Regions from separate parts of the Homo sapiens genome. Here all the other regions are linked to region 1. The links come from fine-mapping of genetic effects on plasma protein levels. A gene starts in region 1. Each other region holds a variant in brackets. All regions are shown on one strand. Distances are between the middles of the regions.

Region 1 (5,000 bases):
TGCTTGTTTTCAGAGGTATCTAATTGGGCCTGGCCTATTAAATTCTAGACTTATCATGTGAATACCCTAAAATAGATAACTTACTTTATAAATGATATGGTGTCATAATCTTATGAATTCTAGTCTTAAAACTTTCAGTATATTTCAGTATTAATGGGGTGTCCATTTGCAAGGCCAGATTTTAATCTGACTTTATATACCAACTCAAGACTGGTTACTTTTAAAGTTTTTCCATTACTCTTACTCTTTGCTCCTGAAATAACAAAGTTTTTGAAATGCAGATGCAGCAGTCTGTGTCTGGATATAAAATTAGAAGATTATGGCATTGGGTTATGCTTTGTAAAGATGGCTGTCTAGCAGCTCAGATGCCTTTTAATGAATCTCTTTATGAATTATGCTCAACAGAAAGGCAAGCTTTTTAAAATTTCAAGATGGCTGTGGTACAGATTGCAGTTCCTTTCTTTTAAGTTTGTCTCATTAATAATTTGACAGTTGTGTATAATCTTTAAAATTTCCCTTCCCCATTACTGAAAGATCTTCATCTGAATGGTGGTATCAGCTGGCATTCTATTGCTTCTGAATATCTAAGAGCACGTTCTTTCTCTAAAAACCCAGTGAAAAATAGAATGAGAAAAGCAGACGTTAAGAAGATGATTGATTGGGGAATAAATTACTTCACTCATTTATATTAGGCATAAGTTCAGACTGCCCTAAGAGTATGTAACTTCTTAAGAAATTCATTTGAACTGAAGTGTATAGTCTTTTTTTGTGTAGTTTGGTAGAAATAATTCATATACCTAGGAATACCCAAAGATAGTAAAGAACTGATCCTTGTAAACTTTGCCCATATGGTCAGTGTTTTTCAGAGGCAGGTATTTCACAACAACTTTTTAAAAAGAGGTAAAACTAATCAATCTTACAGATTTGATCAGCAAAGATGATCTGGAATATTTAGAATTAAATTTGTTTAATAAGAACATTTTGGCTGGGCTTGGTAGCTCATGCTTGTAATCCTAGCACTTTGGGAGGCAGAGGCAGGAGGATCACAAAAATTAGCCAGGTGTAGTGGCATGCACCTGTGGTCCCAGCTATTTGGGGAGGCTGAGGTGGGAAGATGGCCTGAGCCCGGGAAGTTGAGGCTGCAGTGAGCCATGTTCTGCCACTGCACTTCAGCCTGGGTGATAGAGTGAGACCCTGTCTCAAAGAAAAAAGAAATTTAACTTACTTTTTGTATAATTTCTTCAACAGCAAATTTAAGGTGATACTTATGTCCTCTTCCTGGAATATCCTAAAATTAAGAAAATGTAGTGGAGACAAGAAAATATTATAACAACATTATACTTGCATTGTTAGAAGTATGCATCTCATTTGGTTGGAGGGGCTGGCTGAAGGGGAATGGTGAAAGCCTTAGGTCTTGAAAAAGGCATGTCACCATGAATGTAACATCTAATTTAGCAAGTCCCCTATCAAGTTTATTTTGGATGAAAACAAAAGAGTAGGATAAAAGCATACAAATTGGGCACAATTCACTTTCAATCATCAAAAGACTTTATTTAACCCCTGGATCTGTGATCTTAAAGTCTCTACATAAGAAAGTTTGAAACAGCGTTTAATTCTAAAGATGACAATATCACCTTTGAAAAGATTTTTTCATAAAGCTCAGTGTACCCTCCAAATAATGTTCAATGAATGTGAATTTCATTTTGAGGCAGATTACTGCAAAGCAATTGGAGACTTAATACAATTAAGTATTGTTTTTACTTATACATTAGTGAAACTGCAAAATGATTAACAAATTATATAAGACTAAGAAATGGTATTTCACTTTTAAATCAAGATACAGATTGAAAATTTATACCTAATTCTGTTATCTGGTACAGTTTCAAAATAAGATCTACTGTGTCACCTCTAAAAGACTGTTAGCAGTTAAAATTCTGTCAGATAAATAAGGGATAATCTCAAATCCAGTAGATTTTCGTAAAATGAAAACAAACCTCGTTAGTGATTGCTGAGGCCTTAAACATTTAATTCAAGCCTTTAGCAGAGGGTGCACATCATTTAAGGCAGTCATGTGGTAGCGGTGTTTGGGTGGCTAAAGGCCAGCGTCAGCCCACAGTGCTTTTATTCTTTGACTTTGATTGTCAGTTTCTCTTGCTGTTTGTTTCCCCCTTCATTTTGGTCAAAGGGTCTGATAAGGATTTGTCTTAAAATGTAGGCAATAGAGTCTTGGAAGATGGGAGCTTTTGTTGGTCCAGATCAGAGTAGCAGATGAGAAACGTGGCAGCCTTAGTAGTCTTTTGAATGGTTTCTACAGTTTACACTTAAGGAAAGTGCTGCCCCTTACCTAGAGCGTGTTCCCGTTTTCTTGTAACTGTGTGCGTAAAAACTTTGTCTCTGCCTTAAGGTGAAAACAGTCCCGGGCTGTCTCCAGAGACTGGAGTATAGACATTCCCCCAGAAACCTTAATATCTCAAGACCAGATACCAGCAGTGTGTCCTAAAACAGAAGGTGGGTAGGGGGTGGCACGGAGTGTCTGCACCCAAAGGCTGAGACCGCGGGTGAGTGGAGGGAGCGCAATCCTGAAGCCTCTGCTGTCCACCACCCCCTGCTAAACTCACCTCCATGCTGGCTTGTTTGACCTTCTGCACCTCAAACACCCTGTGCGGGGTCCCCTGCTGGTAGTTGATGTAGTTCTGTGCCACCAAGGCCGCCCTGGAGGCTGGGTAGTTGGTCGGCGGGATTTCCATTCCGGATGAGCAGTGACTTCAGGGCTTGGGCTACTCTGGCTTAACGGGACCAGTAGCAGAGCGCCGCCCGTCCTGCTTGCTGCTGGGTCCGGTTGCCGAGGCGGAAAAGTCGCAAGCTCCTTCAGTCAGTCTTCTTCCTCAGCTCCTTCCGACTCCGGAAGCTGCTGTTTGGGCCCAGGCTCCCTGCATCCGAGAGCCCTGGGCTGACTGCTTCTGAGGCCCCGCCCCACTACTGCCTGCAGCGGGCTTCCTTACTCCGCCTGCTGGTTCCTACTGGAGGAGAGGCCAGCATGCTTGTCAGGCACCAGCAGGTGGAGGTGTGGGGAGGGAGTCAGTGGGCTAGGTTCGCTGGGATTGCATCTTTCGTTTCATTAACCTTTATAGAAGTGCAGGGTGGGGCTTTCGCTGATATAGGACATCTCTGAAGACTCTAGTTTCCTGTCCATGGGAAAAAAGTCTGGTTGCTTCGCTTGCATACTGGAGCACAACTTCCTTATACACCGCATGCAGCGTCCCTGGCAGGGCAAGGTACACAGTACTCCAGGTAGTGATTCGATTCCTTCATTTCCCTTCCCCTTATGAGAGTCCAGGAAGAGGCTTGCTCATCCTCAGCTTTTTGTGGGTTTGGACCAGTTCTGCCCAAATCAAAGTATGAGAATCTGCAAACTATAGTATTAAATTGGGAGATTATGTAATTTGGATCAGGAGAAATAAAAAAATGCACCTGTACCCCTCTCCTTTACTAATCTTAAAATGATAAGTTTTGATGTAACGCCATGCTTCCAACTTGAGTCATTTTGAATATTTTACTTCAAGGATTAAAATAAACTTAAAAACTGAACTTATACAAAGCACTCTCTCTGGTATGTGGTCTACCTCATTGCAATGGGCCTATAAACCTGACTTTGTAGAAGTACAGGTTTATCCTTGGTGGTCTTAGGTTAATTGGGCTAGGATAACTTGGAGATTCTACCAAAGTTTGGCCAAGGTCTTCGCTGCCTGGATTGAGACCTTTTTTTCTTTTCTTTTCTTTTTTTTTTTTTTTTTTTTGAGATGGAATTTCACTCTTGTTGCCTAGGCTGGAGTGCAATGGTGCTATCTCGGCTCACTGCAACGTCCGCCTCCTGGGTTCAAGCAGTTCTCCTGCCTCAGCCTCCAGAGTAGCTGGGATTACAGGTGCCCACCACAATGCCCGGCTAGTTTTTTGTATTTTTAGTAGAGACGGGTTTAGGCTAGGCTGGTCTCAAACTCCTGACCTCAGGTGATCCACCCACCTTAGCCTCCCAAAGTGCTGGGATTACAGGCATAAGCCACCATGCCTGGCCAGGACCTTTAACTTGGTAGTAATGCACACACCCAAGACTCTTGAGGTGTATCTCTTTCTGATTATGTAGATTCTGCAGTAAATCTGGATTCTGGACTTTGGCCTCAGTTTCATGCTTATTATTGTCTCCTGGGATTTGGGGGTTCTGATTGACTTTGCCTTTAAATACCATCTGTCTGCTTGCCCATCATCTTGTATCAAATGTCAATGAAACTTTTCTCAGTCTTGTCCGTGTATGAGAAATTTGCTTTGCGAGACACTGTCTTTCACACATGACCTTTTTTTTTTTTTTTTTGGAGACAGAGTTTCGCTCTGTTGCCTAGGCTGCAGTGCAGTGGCGTGATCTCGGCTCACTGCAACCTCCACCTCCCAGGTTCAAGCATTTCTCCTGCCTCAGCCTCCCTAGTATCTGGGACTACAGGTGCACTTCACCACACCTGGCTAATTTTTTTGTATTTTAGTAGAGATGGGGTTTCACCATGTTGAGTTCAGGCAATCCTCCCTCCTCTGCCTCCCAAAGTGTTAGGATTACAGGCATGAGCCACCGTGCCTGGCCTCTCCACGTTTCTTAGTTCAGCATTTGTTAAACCCTGACCCACCCATGGCAATATTTTTGCAAATACAGAATATCAGCCAATTTTCGATGGGGTTGTCAGATACGAACTTACACTGTCTCCTGGGATAAATTTACCAAAGAATTGGTGAAATTTGGGGAACTTTGACATGAAGAAGACTGTTCATTTGAGAGACACTTTAGAAGAACACCAGAAATAAAAAAATAAGACTTTCGGAGAACAGTATTTGTCTTATTTGTCTAAGAGCATTTTAAGTAGAAGACTGCCCATATTTTATTTCCATACTTCAAGGTTTTTTATTAATAACATGGCTTATATTTAAGCTTTTTCCTCTCTCCTTGAAAAGAAAAGATA
Region 2 (5,347 bases), 340 kb before region 1:
GGAAAGTTCTCCTGGATAATATCCTGAAGAGTGTTTTCCAGCTTGGTTCCATTCTCCCCATCACTTTCAGGTACACCAATCAGACGTAGATTTTGTCTTTTCACATAGTCCCATATTTCTTGGAGGCTTTGTTCATTTCTTTTTGCTCTTTTTTCTCTAAGCTTCTCTTCTCACTTCATTTCATTCATTTGATTTTCCATCCCTGATACCCTTTCTTCCAGTTGATCAAATCAGCTACTGAAGGTTGTGCATTTGTCACATAGTTCTTGTGCCATGGTTTTCAGCTCCATCAGGTCATTTAAGGACTTCTCTACTCTGGTTATTCTGGTTAGCCATTCATCTAATCTTTTTTCATGGTTTTTATCTTCTTTGCATTGGGATCGAACTTCCTCCTTTAGCTCTGAGAAGTTTGATCGTCTGAAACTTTCTTCTCTCAACTCGTCAAAGTCATTCTGCATCCAGCTTTGTTCCATTACTTGCGAGGAGCTACGTTCCTTTGGAGGGGGAGAGGTGCTCTGATTTTTAGAATTTTCTGCTTTTCTGCTCTGTTTTTTCTCCATCTTTGTGGTTTTATCTACCTTTGGTTTTTCATGATGGTGACATACAGTTGGGGTCTTGGTGTGGATGTCCTTTCTGTTTGTTAGTTTTTCTTCTAACAGTCAGGACCCTCAGCTGCACGTCTGTTGGCGTTTGCTGGAGGTCCACTCCAGCCCCTGTTTGCCTGGGTATCAGCAGCAGAGGCTGCAGAACAGCGAATATTGCTGAACAGCAAATGTTGCTGCTTGATCGTTCCTCTGGAAGCTTCATCTCAGAGGGGTACCCGGCTGTGTGAGCTGTCAGTGTGCCCCTACTGGGGGGTGCCTCCCAGTTAGGCTACTCGGGGATCAGGGACCCACTTGAGACAGTCTGAACATTCTCAGATCTCAAACTCCGTGCTGAGAGAACCACTACTCTCTTCAAAGCTGTCAGACAGGGACGTTTAACTCTGCAGAGATTTCTGCTGCCTTTTGTTTGTCTATGCCCTGCCCCCAGAGGTGGAGTCTACAGAGGCAGGCAGGCCTCCTTGAGCTGAGGTGGGCTCCACCCAGTTCGAGCTTCTGGGCTGCTTTGTTCACCTACTCAAGCCTCAGCAGCGGTGGGCACCCCTCCACCAGCCTCGCTGCCGCCTTGCAGTTCGATCTCAGAGTGTTGTGCTAGCAATGAGCGAGGCTCCGTGGGCGTTGGACCCTCCGAGCCAGGCGCAGGATATTATCTCCTGGTGTGCCGTTTGCTAAGACCCTTGGAAAAGTGCAGTATTAGGGTGGGAGTGACCCGATTTTCCAGGTGCCATCTGTCACCCCTTCCCTTGGCTAGTAAAGGGAATTCCCTGACCCCTTGCACTTCCTGGATGAGGCGATGCCTCGCCCTGCTTCAGCTCACACTAGGTGGACTGCACCCACTGTCCTGCCCCCACTGTCTGACGAGCCCCAGTGAGATTTCCTCAGTTGGAAATGCAGAAATCACCCGTCTTCTGCGTCGCTCACTCTGGGAGCTGTAGACTGGAGCTGTTCCTATTCAGCCATCTTGCTAATGTTCTATGAACAGATTTTTGTACGTATCTTAAATAATTGCATTAGGCTAGATTCTTAAAATGAAAATCCTATGTCAAAGGGTATGAGTATTTTAAATGTTCTTAATATATAGTACCCTACCATTTTCTGGATGGTAGGCAATTTTGGACACCTTTTCGTGTTAACATTGTCATTGTTTTCAATAGGTACACTATATCTCATTAAGTAGAGTGACCTAACTAGTTCTTTATTGTTGGATATTTAGGTTATTTTTTGATCTTTGCTCTTCTAAGGAATTTTCTGAATATCTGAATGTTCTTAGCTTTTCCATGTTTTAAATATTTTCTCTAGGTCCCCAAATTGGAAACATTTTCTCAAGGAGTATGAGTACTTGAAGGGCTCCATTCACATAATTTTAAATTGCTTTCTATAAATATTATATCAATTTATAATACCGCTAATGAGGCATGAGAGTTTTACATCTGTATTAGTCTGTTCTCATGCTGCTAATAAAGACCTACCTGAGACTGGGTAACTTATTAAAAAAAAAAAAAAAGGTTTAATGGACTCACAGCTCCATGTGGCTGGGGAGGCCTCACAATCATAGCACAAGACAAAGTAGGAGCAAAGTCATGTCTCACATGGCAGCAGACGATACAGAGAGCATGTGCAGGGGAATTCCCCTTTGTAAAACCAATTAGATTTCTTGAGACTTAATCATTATCACAAGCCCTGCTCCCATGATTCAGTTACCTCCCACTGGGTCCCTCCCACAACACTTGGGAATTATGAGAGCTACAATTTGAGATTTGGTGTTGGGCTCAGAGGGTGAGGGGAACACACACAGCCAAACCATATCAACATCATTGGCTAGAATTAGCTGTCATTTATATTTTTCACATTTACATATTTTAATAATGGCATAGTGAATTCTACAAGAGAAATTTGAGGAGAGAGCTTGACTAGTAGTCTTTTGTGCGTGTGAGTTTCTTATGCTTTTTTGTTCTCTTTTAAGAATTAGTGATTTTGTTATAAACTTACAAGAACTTTTTTTGAATGAAGCTATTAACTTGGTTAAATTTGTTTCTAATAAATTTATTGTCACTGTTTTGCCATTTTATTTTAGTTCTGTGTTGCTGGATACTTTTTATATAAAATTGAATATTTTTATGTAGTCAAATCT[G/T]TTGGGTTTTTTTCTTTATGATTTCTTCTGTTACTTCTAAGCCTAAAAATTCAGCCCTTCTCCCATGTGAATTCTTATTCTGTTAGTTTGAACCAAATGAACTTGCCACTTTTATAGTTAACAAATGATTAAGTATCAGTATTTCATATAGTTTAATCTTGAAGTTTTTTTGAAGTGTATTCATTTTCCTTATTGGAATATTTTTTTCCTCATGGCCTAACAAATAAAAAACAAAATATATGCAAAAAACCTGAATAAGATTACATATTTTTTTTCATTTTGGTATAGTGGTCTTTTTTTTTTTTTAAGTATAAGTGGGTGTTAATCATGTGGTAAAGAGTTGGATTATCATTCCTACACTACCATACTAATATATTATTTAGTTGCTCTTTCATAATATATATCTTTTAAAGTATACAAAGCAGTACTTTTGATTATATATTGTTATTAATGTAGCAAATTTCATAAATAAAAGTAGAACTTAATTTATGTCATTTTTTAGGTCAGAAAAGAGGAGTCACAAAGAGACTAGCAAGAAAGAGAGAGGGATCTCTGATTGTTTTAGAATGAAAGCCCAAGGAATAATGTATTCATTATATATATTTATCTTACTTTGGCTCTACATTAGAATTTTAAAAGAAATATACCATCATAAATTAGCAATCAAGTTTCTGCCAATACTTTTTAATCATAACTAACAACACCCATAGTTTTGGACTTTCCTGAAGTAGAGATCATTAGTTATGATGAATTGTGAAGTGGTTTTGTGATTATACTAATGTTGACTAAAACATCCGTGTTTGATCATCTATATCATTTTCACTTATTACTTGAGCCAGTTATTGATTCTAGGTCTCCTGGGGCAAAAAACTGGTATGTTTATTCATTATAAGTTTCACCTCTTAAAATAAATCCGTAACCTCATGGTAGGAGCAGGAGTAGGTGTCAAAAGTTAGATTACAGGCAAAACTTAAATATTTCTTGCAAAACTTAAACATTTCTTAAATAGGGAGACTGTTTTTATGAAAACGTGTGATATAAACATACTTTGTACTTAATTATAAACTTCAAAATTTTTAATTTACTATTTTCCTTATCTTTTAAAGATTTTTTCCTTTTGTCATAATATCCATTTTTCCCTGATCCATCCAGTCAAATTTTACTTAGAAAACAGATAGGATTAAGGATAAAAAAGAAAAAGAAAAATTATTACCATTTTGCTATGTATTTTTCTATGATAGCATATTATTTTGAATTTTTTTTTCCAAATCTGGATCATTTTACATAGTTTTGTAGTTTTTAAAAAATGTAATGTTAGCATTTCTGCATGTTACTAAATGTCTTTACATTTGAAAAATTGACTGTTATGCTACTTCCATCATGGATTTGGACCATAATTTATTTAATCATTTTTCTCTTAGGGATGCTTTTCTGTTTTTTGTTTTTTTTTTTTTTTGAGACAGAGTCTCGCTCTTTCGCCCAGGCCGGACTGCAGTGGCGCTATCTTGGCTCACTGCAAGCTCCGCCTCCCGGGTTCACGCCATTCGCCTGCCTCAGCCTCCCAAGTAGCTGGGACTACAGGTGTCTGCCACCATGCCCAGCTAATTTTTTGTATTTTTAGTAGAGACAGGGTTTCACCATGGTAGCCAGGATGGTCTCGATTTCCTGACCTCATGATCTGCCCACCTTGGCCTCCCAAACGCTTTTTTGTTTTTAGAAACATTGTGATGAGCAGACTTGCATAGGTAAGGAAACCAAAGCCCTCAGTCAATTCTAGAATGCAGTTCTTCTGACATCCAATTAATCTTTTGTGTTTTGCCTTTTTTCCTACCATATAAAACTAGTGATTACTATGAAACATGCCCTCTATGCAAATATTCCATCTAGAAAAATCTCTCAGTACAGTATTTAAATAAAATTATTTTTTGTAACACATTTATAGTAGCATGAAATAAAGTATGTGTTTGATCTTTTTTAGTTGGTTAATCTGTATTAGTGTGTATTTTGAACACATTGGTTCAGACAGCTCGATATTTAATATATTTTTTAGGACAAAACATATTGTAAAAAGCATTCTAGTACTTTCAGCACTTTTCATTGAGTGAGGACAAAGCTTCAAAAAAGTAAATTTGAAAGCTCTATCAGAGGCAAAGTAAAGTAACTGCATTCAAAGATAGAAATTATAACTTGGAATAAAAACACAGAAGGTTTTGTCAAGGGAATTAAAAATCTATGTGAAGTCTCTAAAGCAAAGAGAGAAATAGGTAGACTGTTCCAGGTAATTGGTGCTGCAGGAGAACACCATTCCCTTTCCAGCAGTCATACAAAGGGAGACAAAATAAAGAAGTTGAAAGAAAAGTAGAAGTTGAAAGAAAAGTAGCACAGAGAATGGGTGTCTTACAAATAACCATTGCAACACTACAGAAGGATTTAAAAAGTGGGAAGTATTATTTTAAACTGAATCCTAAAAGGGTCAGGAAAGACATTTATATAATTGTTTAAAATAACGTGTTTTCTAGAACATCCTGAAATGTTAATGTTTATGGACTAAAAAATGTGCTGATACTTAAAATTATGGCAGCAAAAAAAGAAGGCTATAAAGATGCTAAATAAA
Region 3 (5,347 bases), 330 kb before region 1:
TCATTGCCTTTGGTTCTTGGTGGTGTGAAATCCATCTTATTTGGTGAGAATAAATAAACCAAGTTCAAATTTTGAGAAACATTGCAACTTCATATTCTCTCGTGATGCCACCTCAGTGCCTGGCATGATTGAGAGAAAGGGTTTGTCATAAGCTGTGGTCATTACCAGCTTCAGAGGTTCACTCAGACTAGTGGTCTCTGCTTCAGTAGTAACAGTGGTACAGCCCTGACCTGTTTGGCAGCATCTCTGTGATATTCCTTATGTTCGTCTTCCCACACTCATTTATTTCTGTTGGAGGGCTCAGGACTTTCCACGTTACATATCCTATGTGTTTCAGTTTCTGATGGCCCTTGACCAGGATGCTTACAGACTTGTTAGATGAAATCAGGGAGCCCGGCATAGCCGTGATAAGAGGTGGGAGATTTCCCGTCTGTGCCTGAGTTAACTGGCATGGATAGGACCCAAGACAAAGTAGGGTAAGAAGAACCACATTTATGATCCTGTGTCTAAACAGTCTCCCTGGCCTCACCAATGCTGCTCTTATGAAGAACAGGTCCTCTGCCATGTGAGAAAGACCTGCAGGAAGTTGTAGGAGTGTCCCGCTTCCCACGCGGAGAGCGAAGACATTCCACATCCTCATTCCACATCCTCATTCCACCTCCTTCTGAGTGGGGCTGCAGAAGTCCTTGCTATCATGAAGACATTCATCATCTGCACTTCCAACTAAAATCAGTCTCATGTGATCCGTTTTTTCTGTCCCCAGTCCCACATCAGCATTTTAATCTTTGTACAAAGCATGGGGTAAGAGAGTCTCAGACTAAGTAACAGGACAGGGAGAACTGCCAATCCGAGAGCTGCTCTGAAATGCTGTGTGGGCGCATGGCCCTTGCTTCTTAATGCTGAGCTTCCATCTCTTTACATACATAATAGGGAAATGATGATGAGTTCCTGCAAATCTATGATCATAGTGGGTACAAACTGTCCAGAATAGGCATTGCTGGAGAGGTGGTTAGAATAATTATTAGTTTCCCTTTCTTCCCTTTCTATATTCCTAACATATTGTTAGCACTGAATCTGTCCATGGGGGTCAATTTTGACCTAAACAAGATACCTCCATTATGTTAAGTCCTTCCTGTGTTCTAAAACCTATCTCATCCTGGCTGCACCTTACTTAGTAGCTATGCTATCGATTCTCCTAGCTAAACAGGTAGCCTCGATGTAAAATCTTACCTTCCTTATACCCTCATGAACCACTTCTCTCCAAAAATCTGAAATAATTTAATAGCTAACGCTTTACTGAGTTTTCATTTTATGATGATTACATGGAGAAGGATTACATTTAATCTGTACAAAATCTGTGGTAGATTGAATTATTATTCTACATTTTTAAGTCAGCTCTTAATTCATTAGATGCTGAGGCTTTTGTATGGCTATGTATTTGTATAGTATACAAGCAGCATCACTGAGGAGGTAATAGTATTGGATCATGAATATGGGCTCTCAAGCAAGTCCTCAAGGATGTTGTAACCTTTGCTTCAGTTTCACCTTTATAGTTTAACATCCTCATCTATGAAATATGTATATAAAATGGCATCTTTCTCTGGTTTTTAATAAAGACAGCTATTATATAACTTTGCTTTTTTTTTTTGCAAACCCCTTAAACTGTTTAGAGAAAATGTTTGATAAAACTCTTCAGATGAATTTGCTATCAAGAATGGAAAACATGTTCTTGGGTTTTTTTCTTTTCTTCTTTTGGTTTTTATTTAAACCAACTTGGTACTAAGTTCTAGAGGCAAGATAAATCTACTTTTGAGCTATTTGTAATATCTCTAGCTTAGACCTTGATCCTAAGAGATAGAATTATAGTAACTGTTAAAATGAAATGTAGCTAGAAATATGATAAGCTGTTGATATGTGTCTCTGTCATAGTGAGATTACATTTAAAGGAAACTGCACAGTACCTACACTGCAAATATGTTTAGTAGTTTTTTAAAGTTGTGCATCTGAGAAAGCATGATTAAAATTAGCTTTTTAGATGGTGCTCACAACCTTTAAGGCCATTAATGGTAGCATCCAAAGACTAAAGGAAATTTAGTTTTAACTCTGCATAGTCTTTTCTGGCAATTAAAAATGATTAGATTTATCTTTTTTCCCTATGAAAGTTAATGAGCAAATGGATCTCAAGCTGTTGTAAGCAGTGTAGTATTGTTAAGGCTTAGATGTTGTGAGCTGAATTAAAATTCAAGCTCTGCCACCTTGTCAGCTTTGCCATTTAAGGTAACTTATTCTTC[T/C]CTAAAAGCATTAAGAATGCCTGCCTTGTTAGGAATGTTGTGAGAATTTTGTTAAATGAGGTATGTAAAATGTTTAGCATGGGATCTCGAACATTATAAGCATATGATAAATAATAGATATTATATTTTTTCAAAAATGATACTAGGGCCGGGCGCGGTGGCTCACGCCTGTAATCCCAGCACTTTGGGAGGCCGAGGAGGATGGATCATGAGGTCAGGAGATTGAGACCATCCTGGCTAACAAGGTGAAACCCCGTCTCTACTAAAAATACAAAAAATTAGCCGGGCGCGGTGGCGGGCGCCTGTAGTCCCAGCTATTCTGGAGGCTGAGGCAGGAGAATGGCGTGAACCCGGGAAGCGGAGCTTGCAGTGAGCAGAGATTGCGCCACTGCAGTCCGCAGTCCGGCCTGGGCGACAGAGCGAGACTCCGTCTCAAAAAAAAAAAAAAAAAAAAAAAAAATGATACTAATATTTTTCAGGCAGCTAATGTTCTATTTCAGGAATGTCTGTCATGTTGTCTGGGAAAGATATGGCACATAGAAGTTATCACTTATGTGCATTTGGAGCTCATAAGATCACTTTAAGAATTGCCATTGTATTACCAAATAGTTTGGTTAATTATTATTTATAATGTAGATTACGTGGTTTATTATTACCATGTGTTGTAATTTCTCTTACACCATTATCATTCCCTTAAACATCCAGCTCTTTGAGTTGGATGAATCCTTCCTAAGAGATAGATTTCAGTGAAATTGATAATTCAAAAGTAAATTATGTATGACACTAAGGAGGATTTTAAAGTTTACAAGGAAGTTTATCTCAAATATATACTTACTGATCACCAACTGTATTTCAGGCACTCTCCTAGGTGCTAATGATACAGAGATATAAGACAATGGTTGCTTTCAAAAAGCTGATAGCCTGGTAGAAAAGACAGACAACAGAACAATTAATTAAACTGAAAATGATAAGTGTGCTGATACATGTTTCCCCAGGGCATTACAGGAAGACAGAGCAGGAAATTGTAATCATCAGGAAGAGAGTTAGGGAGAAAATAAGCTAAAACTGATGAGATTTTCTGAAAGTGATGTTACTTGAGCTGAGCTTTGAAAGAACACTCATTAGTTAGGAACAGGAAGTTATGGAGACAAAGGCAACATATAGATTTATATGTAGAGTGATATGCTTTGGCTGTGTCCCCACTAAATCTCAACTTGAATTGTATCTCCCATAATTCCCATGTGTTGTGGGAGGGATCCAGGGGGAGGTAATTGAATCATGGGGGCTGGTCTTTCCTGTGCTATTCTCGTGATAGTGAATAAGTCTCACGAGATCTGATGACTTTATCAGGGGTTTCTGCTTTTGCTTCCTCCTCATTTTTCTCTTGCCGCTCCCTGGCCAGGCATGGTGGCTTACACCTGTAATCCCAGCACTTTGGGAGGCCGAGGTGGGTGAATCACAAGGTCAGGAGTTCAAGACCAGCCTGCCCAATATGGTGAAACCCTGGCTCTACTAAAAATACAAAAATTAGCTGGGCATGATGGCATGCACCTGTAGTCCTAGCTACTCAGGAGGCTGAGGCAGGAGAATCGCTTGAACCCGGGAGGCGGAGGTTGCAGTGAGCTGAGATCACACCACTGCACTCCAGCCTGGGCGACAGAGCAAGAGTCCGTCTCAAAAAAAGAAAAAGAAAAGAAAGACAAAAAAAAGAAGTGCCTTTTGCCTCCCACCATGATTTTGAGGCCTCCCCAGCCATGTGGAACTGTAAGACCAATTAAACCTCTTTCTGTTCCCAGTGTCGGGTATGTCTTTATTAGCAGTTTGAAAACGGACTAATACAGTAAATTGGTACCAATAGAATGGGGTGTTGCTGAAAAGATACCTGAAAATGTGGAAACGACTTTGGAACTGGGTAACAGGCAGAGGCTGGAACAGTACCTCCTGTGGAGGAAAATGTGGGAAAGTTTGGAACTCCCTAGAGACTTGTTGAATGGCTTTGCCCAAAATGCTGATAGCGATACGGACAATACAATCCAGGCTGAGGTGGTCACAGATGGAGATGAGGAACTTGTTGGGAACTGGAGCAAAGGTGACTCTTGTTATGTTTTAGCAGAGAGACTGGTGGCATTTTGCCCCCACCCTAGAGATTTGTGGATGATTTAGGGTATCTGGTGGAAGAAATTTCTAAGCAGCAAAGCATTCAAGAGGTGACTTGGGTATTGTTAAAGGCATTCAGTCTTAAAAGAGAAACAGAGCATAAAAGTTCAGAAAATTTGCAGCCTGACTACGCAATAGAAAAAAAAACATTCTCTGGGGAGAAATTCAAGCTGGCTGCAGAAATTTACATAAGTAGTAAGGAGCCTCATGTTAATCCCCAAGACCATGGGGAAAATGTCTCCAGGCCATGTCAGAGACCTTCATGGCAGCCCCTCCCATCACAGGCCCAGAGACCCAGCAGGAAAAAGTGGTTTCGTGGGCCAGGTCCAGGTCCCTATGCTGTGTGCAGCCTAGGGACTTCGTGCCCTGTGTCCCAGCCACTCCAGCCATGGCTGAAAAGAGCCAATGTACAGCTCGGGCTGTAGCTTCAGAGGGTGGAAGCCCCAAGCCCTGGAAGCTTCCAGGTGTTATTAAGCCTGCAGGTGCACAGAAGTCATGAATTGAGGGTTGGGAACCTGTGCCTAGATTTCAGGAGATGTTTGGAAACGCCTGGTTGCCCAGGCAAAAGTTTGCTGCAGGAGCAGGGCCCTAATGGAGAACCTCTGCCAGGACAGTGCAGAATGGAAATATGGGGTCAGAGCCCCCACACAGAGTCCCTAGTGGGGTGCTGCCTAGTAGATCTGTGAGAAGAGGGCCACCATCCTTCAGGCCCCAGAATCACAGATCTATTGACAGCTTGAACCGTGTGCCTGGAAAAGCCACAGACACTCAATGCTAGCCCATGAAAGCAGCCGGGAGGGAGGCTGTACCAGGCAAAGTCACGGGGTGGAGCTGCCCAAGACCATGGGAACCCACCTCTTGCATCAGCGTAATCTGAATTTGAGACCTGGAGTCAAAGG

Direction of the effects. Alleles are on the strand shown, and positions count from the first base shown. The strength of an association depends on the size of the effect and on how common the allele is.
In carriers of allele T in region 2, the plasma level of the protein whose gene starts at base 2,917 in region 1 tends to be lower than with G alone (weak association).
For the plasma level of the protein whose gene starts at base 2,917 in region 1, allele C in region 3 goes with a lower level than allele T (weak association).

Evidence for each region. PIP is the posterior inclusion probability: the model's chance that the variant is causal. Protein levels are from antibody-based Olink assays in UK Biobank. Linkage for the fine-mapping came from a reference panel and not from the study's own genotypes, which makes the PIPs less certain.
Region 2: its variant is fine-mapped to the plasma level of the LXN protein (UK Biobank, PIP above 0.99).
Region 3: its variant is fine-mapped to the plasma level of the LXN protein (UK Biobank, PIP above 0.99).

What each region holds. Positions count from the first base shown.
Region 1 is chr3:158,669,732-158,674,731 of GRCh38, forward strand. It overlaps LXN (latexin), which reads right to left and starts at 2,917. Exons shown (of 6, transcript NM_020169.4): 1 at 2,619-2,917; 2 at 1,226-1,288. The coding sequence starts at 2,747. The region is part of intron 13 of GFM1 (G elongation factor mitochondrial 1); the gene reads left to right. RefSeq lists enhancers at 2,134-2,726, 2,241-2,300, 2,727-3,319, 2,741-2,790, 3,101-3,290.
Region 2 is chr3:158,328,798-158,334,144 of GRCh38, forward strand. The region is part of intron 5 of RSRC1 (arginine and serine rich coiled-coil 1); the gene reads left to right. Among named protein-coding and RNA genes, the nearest start is that of UC.134, 200 kb to the right of the region's middle. RefSeq lists an enhancer at 669-1,198. The variant G/T (reference allele first, on the strand shown) is at 2,734.
Region 3 is chr3:158,336,574-158,341,920 of GRCh38, forward strand. All of the region lies in intron 5 of RSRC1 (arginine and serine rich coiled-coil 1), which reads left to right. It also overlaps the pseudogene LILRA2P1. Among named protein-coding and RNA genes, the nearest start is that of UC.134, 190 kb to the right of the region's middle. The variant T/C (reference allele first, on the strand shown) is at 2,292.